Regions from separate parts of the Homo sapiens genome. Here region 1 is reported to be linked to region 2. Evidence: microRNA targets listed by miRTarBase, many of them from high-throughput screens and not tested one by one. Region 2 holds a microRNA gene; the other region holds the end of a gene's coding sequence.
Evidence for each region. The annotated mature microRNA hsa-miR-6507-3p reads CAAAGUCCUUCCUAUUUUUCCC and lies in region 2 at 1,751-1,772, shown strand. An mRNA with a match to its seed (bases 2 to 7 or 8) in the 3' UTR can be bound and repressed. Matches are read on the target gene's strand: a 7mer-m8 pairs with bases 2 to 8, a 7mer-A1 pairs with bases 2 to 7 and ends in A, and an 8mer does both.

Region 1 (3,416 bases), not on the chromosome of region 2:
TTTTTCTTATGCATACATACCTATGATAAAATTTAATATGTAAATTAAGCATAGTAAGAGTTAATAATAAACTGGAACAATTATAACAATATGCTGGCATCACTATTCTTGTGCTTTGGGACCATTATTAAATAAGATAAGGGTTACTTGAACACAATCACTAAATTGCACGGAAGTTAGATACAATATTTTCTTTACTGAAATAAATGTTCATTGAGCAAAATAAATTAACTAGTGATTGGAGACCAAGCCAAATGACCTTTTCCAGCAGTGAGTGGTTCAAAATAGAAGAGAGGCAGCAAGATTAGTTTTACTTTTAGAAAATAATATACTTCAATGATCTTATCCCCAATTTAGGTTCATTTGATCTGCTGATTTATACAGACAAAGATTTGGTTGTACCTGAAAAATGGGAAGAGTCGGGACCACAGTTTATTACCAATTCTGAGGAAGTCCGCCTTCGTTCATTTACTACTACAATCCACAAAGTAAATAGCATGGTGGCCTACAAAATTCCTGTCAATGACTGAGGATGACATGAGGAAAATAATGTAATTGTAATTTTGAAATGTGGTTTTCCTGAAATCAAGTCATCTATAGTTGATATGTTTTATTTCATTGGTTAATTTTTACATGGAGAAAACCAAAATGATACTTACTGAACTGTGTGTAATTGTTCCTTTTATTTTTTTGGTACCTATTTGACTTACCATGGAGTTAACATCATGAATTTATTGCACATTGTTCAAAAGGAACCAGGAGGTTTTTTTGTCAACATTGTGATGTATATTCCTTTGAAGATAGTAACTGTAGATGGAAAAACTTGTGCTATAAAGCTAGATGCTTTCCTAAATCAGATGTTTTGGTCAAGTAGTTTGACTCAGTATAGGTAGGGAGATATTTAAGTATAAAATACAACAAAGGAAGTCTAAATATTCAGAATCTTTGTTAAGGTCCTGAAAGTAACTCATAATCTATAAACAATGAAATATTGCTGTATAGCTCCTTTTGACCTTCATTTCATGTATAGTTTTCCCTATTGAATCAGTTTCCAATTATTTGACTTTAATTTATGTAACTTGAACCTATGAAGCAATGGATATTTGTACTGTTTAATGTTCTGTGATACAGAACTCTTAAAAATGTTTTTTCATGTGTTTTATAAAATCAAGTTTTAAGTGAAAGTGAGGAAATAAAGTTAAGTTTGTTTTAAATTTGTCTTAAAACATTTTGATACTGGTTTGGTGTTGATATAGTTAAATGGTAATTAGAATTGATTCAGCATAGCTAATGAATTCTTGTTCCTACGAAGTTATAGAACTTAAGGGTCCAAAGTTGAGTGAGTCTTGAGGTGTCTTCAATCTAATGGATAAACTTTGATCACATCCTGTTCATCTCATAGCAATAGACTTAAGGCTATTACTTCATCATTGTGAAAAGATAAATGTCCTTTGGAATTAGTCCAACAATTCCAGTTGAACAAGTGTTGATTTTAGTACTTTACTATACTCTTAGCCTTATTGTCAGCCTACTTTTCCTTATATACTTAAATACTATGCTTATTCCTGTGCTTTCATTAATACCCTCATCTGGTACATGCTTTCTATCCAGTTCTCACCTGTTTTTCCAAGGTCAGTTTAAGGCAGATTTGTAAAGTCTTCTCTAATCTCTAATCTAAATCTGACCTCATTTTGTAAAAATTCAGTTTATTAATGTTTATTATTAGACACTAAGTTCTTTATGTGTATTAACTTATTTAACCTTCACTATTTTTAAGTAATTGCACATAGTCTGAATCTGTTCATTCAGAAATTACATATTGAGCAAATACTGTGGATCAGTGGCAGTTTCTGGGTTCTCAGTGACAAATTTGTAGACTCTTCATATCTTTATGGAATAAGTGGACCACTGGTGTTACCAACCTAGATGATTTCAAGAAAAGTGGCAATTAAATGCTTCATTTGTATTTTAACTATTTGAGAAGTCAGACTAAATTCTGCGAAATCACTTTTCCCCCCCAAGATGGAGTCTTATTCTGTCGCCCAGGCTGGAGTACAGTGACGCAGCTCAGCTCACTACAGCCTCTGCCTCCCGGATTCCAGCCATTCTTCCGTCTCAGCCTCCTGAGTAGCTGGGATTACAGGCACGTGCCACCACACCTGGCTAATTTTTATATTTTTAGTAGAGAGAGGGTTTCACCATGTTGGCCAGGCTAGTCTTGAACTCCTGACCTCATGATCTGCCCGCCTTGACCTCACAAAGCATTGGGATTACAGGCGTGAGCCACTGCGCCCGGCTGAAATCACATTTTTAAAGGTTGTGTGTATACTCTGGTCATTTCAACTCAGCTACCAATATTAACAGGATTAAATTCTTAGATTTTTGTATCATTTGCATGCTACTATTTACTCTGAGGTTTCTGGAGAGCTAGTCATGATGAGTCATTTTACCCCTTACAGATTATATAATCAATTAAGAAATACACATTTTGGGCTGGGCGCAGTGGCTCGCGCCTGTAATCCCAGCACTTTGGGAGGCCGAGGCAGGTGGATCACGAGATCAGGAGTTTGAGACCAGCCTGGCCAAGATGGTCAAACCCCGTCTCTACTAAAAATATAAAAATTAGCTGGGCGTGGTGGCGGGCGCATCTCAGCTACTTGGGAGGCTGAGGCAGGAGAAATCGCTTGAACCCATGAGGTGGAGGTTGCGGTGAGCCAAGACCGTGCCACTGTACTCTAGCCTGGGCGACAGAGCAAGGCTCCATCTCAAAAAATAATAAATAAAAAAGAAATACACATTTTGGAGCTGAGTGGGAGCCAAACTATGAGTTTTATTGAGGTGAAGCTATACTGGAAAAGCTTTGCCCTGTAGCTCCAAGTGGACTGTCCCATCCTCTTTCTAGACCTTGAGGCTTACCTCAGGAGGATGATGTTTAAATCAACAGCTGAAAGACTTGTGAGTGGTTTCTACACCATGTTAAAGAGAAGGTTCTAAGACAGCATGATAGGCCTCTAGGCCTGGCCTGGACTCTGGCTCAGTGTTGCTTACCATATGTAGAGGATGAACAGAGGTTAAGCCCATCAAGGTCTGAAGTAGAGCCCAGGAGGAACTGAACTGTATCTGGCTTTCAGGATCCTTTTCCCAGTGTCATCAATCAGAGAAGTCAAACCTCTGTGAGAATGCTTGTGCAGAGGTATAACAGTCTCATGTATTGGTTGGCTTTTGCTGCACCTTTCTCATTCTGTTGGAGGGACATTGGTTAGTCAGGACTCTGAAGGCCAGCTTTTTCACACTGACCAAAGCAAGTGAAGGTCAAGCCTAACTTTAATGGGACCAGGAAGTATACTCCTCCCATGGAGGTGGTGGGAATGGCACCGAGAAGTTTGATGACAGTTATCTAATGGACTAGAGGTTGG
Region 2 (3,416 bases):
CCTCCCACTGGTTCAGCACCAATTTAAAAAATAAAACTTAAAAATGATGTATTTTCCAATAGCACGCATTTGTGGCTTTATAAATTCATTCAATAAGTTACTATGGCCATACAAAAAGCATGCCCTTTTGAGGTTCACTTTCTACCAGGGGGATATAGATAATAAAGAATGTATATTCAGTATTTTAAAAGGCAATGACACCTACTTCTACTGCCAAAAAGACAGAGTAAATATACTTTCCCCTATTCCTCCTATTAAGGGTAACTAAAAACTCTAAATATTATATATAAAAAACATGTAAGAAGACTCAGAGGTTGAAAAGAAGTCAGCCAAGAACCCAAGGAACAACATGATGGTGAGTTCCCTGGGTTTTCTTCTTGTCTTTAATATCCCAAACTTGGCGCTGAAGAAGCTGGAAACCTGGAAATCTCAATGAATACAAACACAAAAGACCCCAACAAAAGCCAGTTTTCTCTAGCCAAGGAGAACAATAAAGGACCAATCTAGCAAGACAGAAAGGTTTTACACAATAACCACTCCACCCTAGCCAAATGTCATAAAAAATTTGTGTCCTATTTCTCACACAAACAAAGGCTGAGTAGGGAGCCTGGACTTACCCTCATGAAACTCTAATGTGCTCCTGCAACATCCTTGCCAGGATGGTGTCCAAGTAGAGAGCCTGCACTTCATCCCCATTGGTTGATATTGAGGGAACACCCTCCCACTTCACTGCAGTATTAGTTGAGACTCTGGAGATGTGGAACTTACCCACCTGCTCAGCAATAATGAGGAGCCTCCCTTTGGTGTGAATGAAGGCTGAATGGGCAACCTGGACTTTGACATCCACCTGGCAGAAACAAAGCAGTGCCCTCACTTATACCCTGCCAGAGCAGTGTCAAAAAAAAAAAAGCCAATTAAAATAAAAGGTTTAAATAAGATCTAGGGAGGTGGAGCAAGATGGTTGGGATAGAAGCCTTCACTGTTTGTCCCTCTGGCTTGAACACCAAATCTTAACAACTATCTGTACACAGAAAAGCCCCATCACAAAAACCAACAATCAAGTGTGCAATCACAGTACTTGGATTTAACGTCATATTCACAGTACTTGGATTTAACGACAGAGGCATTGAGGAGGGCAGAAGAGATACTTTAGAATCACTGACACCACCTCACCTCCATCCCCTAGCAGTGGCCATGCAGTGCAGAGAGAGAACTTGAGCACTTTGGGGAGGGAGAGCACAGCTGCTGGGCGACTTTACATTGAACTCAGTGCTGCCCTGTTACAGTGGAGAATAAAGCTGTATTGAGCTCAGCCATTGCCTGTGCACAATGGGAGCATCTGGACCAGCCCTAGCCAGAGGGGGGTCACCCATCCCAGTGGTCCAAACTTGAGTTTCTGTGCAAACCTCACCACTTAGGGCTAAAGTGCTCTGGGGTCCTAGGTAAACTTGAAAGACAGTCTAGGACACAAAGACTGCAATTCCTAGGCAACTCCTAGTGCTAGGCTGGGCTTCAAGCCAGTGAACTAGGAGTGGAACATGACCTAGGGAGACACCAGCTGGCACAGCTATGGGAGAGTAAAGAGAAGTCATCCCTCCCCCAAACCCAGGATTGCAGCTTGTAGCAATGGAAGTGACTGTTTCTTTCCGTTTAAGGAGAGGAGATCAAAGTTAAAGGGTACTTTGTCTTACATCTTGTGGAAAGGGGAGGGAAGAATAGGAGGGACTTTGTATTGTGGTTCAGTACCATGCAAAGTCCTTCCTATTTTTCCCTCCACTTTACTTCCTTTCCCTCAACTTAGCTTCCGTAGAATAGAACATCACATAAGTTTCTAAGGTTTTTGACTCCAACTTCTGGCTCCCAGACAGCATCTCTGGACACACCTGGAGCCTACAAGAACTCACTACCCTGACGGGAAGGGCCTTGGGCAAGGCCCATTGCTGTGCTGGCTTTGGGTCTGACCCAGCACAGTCCCAGTGGTGGTGGCCACAGGGGTGATTGCATCACTACACCCCCCAGTTCCAGGTGGTTCGGCACAGAGAGAGAGAGACTCCATGTGTTTTGGGGAAAGTAAGGGAAAAGAACAAGGGTTTCTGCCTGGTAATCCAGAGCATTCTTCTGGATCTTACCCACAACCACCACAGCAGTACCTCTATGAGTGTACAAAACCCACCGTATTATTGGGCTTGGGGCCCAAGTCCCTTTGAATACCTAGAAAACCTTCCCAAGAAAGACAGGCACAAATAAGCCCAGACTGTGAAGACCACAATAAATACATAACTCTTTAATGCCCAGATGCCAAAGAACTTCTACAAGTGCCAACATCATTCAGGAAAACATTACTTCACCAAATGAACTAAATGAGGTACCAGGGATCAATCCCAGAGAGATAGATATATATGACGTTTCAGACAGAGAATTCAAAATAGCTGTTTTGACGAAACTCAAAGAAACTTAAGATAACACAGAGAAGGAATTCAATATTTTATCAGGTAAATTTAACAAAGAGATTGAAATAATTAAATAGAATCAATCAGAAATTCTAGAATTGAAAACTGTAGTTGACATGCTGAAGAATTTATCAGAGTCTCTTAATAGCAGAATTGATCAAGCAGAAGAAAGAATTAGTGAGCCTAGAGACAGGCTATTTGAAAATACACAGTCAGAGGAGACAAAAGGGAAAAAGAATAAAAAAGAATGAAGCATGCCTACAAGATTTAGAAAGTAGCCTGAAAAGGACAAATCTAAGAGTTATTGGCTTTAAAGAGGAGGTAGAGAAAGAGATAGGGATAGAAAGTTTATTCAAAGGGATAGTATCAGAGAATTTCCCAAACCTAGAGAAAGATATCAACATTCAAGTAGAAGAAGTTATAGAACACCAGGCAGATTTAACCTAAAGAAGACTACCCCAAGGCATTTAATAATCAAACTCCCAGTGGCCAAGGATAAAGAAAGATTCTAAAAGCAGCAAGAGAAAAGAAACAACACACAGTGGAGCTCCAATAGGTCTGGCAGCAGACTTTTCAGTGCAAACCTTACAGGTCAGGAGAGAGTGGCATGAGATATTTAAAGTGCTGAAAGAATAAAACTCTTATCTTAGATTAGTATATCTTGAGAAAATATCCTTTAAGCCTGAAGGAGAAATAAAGACATTCTCAGACAAATAAAACCTGAGGGATTTCAATACCATACCTATCCTATAAGAAAGGCTAGAGAGAGTTCTTCAATCTGAAAGAAAATGATGTTATTGAGCAACAAGATATCATCTGAAGATATAAAACTCATTATTACCATAGTAAGCACACAGAAAAACACAGAATAGTATAACTTTGTAGTTGTGATGTATAAACTTATCTTGACTAAAGTAGAAAGAATAAACGATGAACCAATCAAAGATAACAGCTACAACAACTTTT

Region 1: the mRNA of MAD2L1 is a reported target of hsa-miR-6507-3p. Seed matches in the 3' UTR shown: 7mer-A1 at 1,062-1,068.

What each region holds. Positions count from the first base shown.
Region 1 is chr4:120,057,232-120,060,647 of GRCh38, reverse strand. MAD2L1 (mitotic arrest deficient 2 like 1) reads left to right here. Exons shown (of 5, transcript NM_002358.4): 5 at 358-3,416. The coding sequence ends at 530. Among named protein-coding and RNA genes, the nearest start is that of MAD2L1, 7.9 kb to the left of the region's middle.
Region 2 is chr10:98,922,858-98,926,273 of GRCh38, reverse strand. MIR6507 (microRNA 6507) reads left to right here and starts at 1,706; the gene lies at 1,706-1,775. All of the region lies in intron 3 of HPSE2 (heparanase 2 (inactive)), which reads left to right.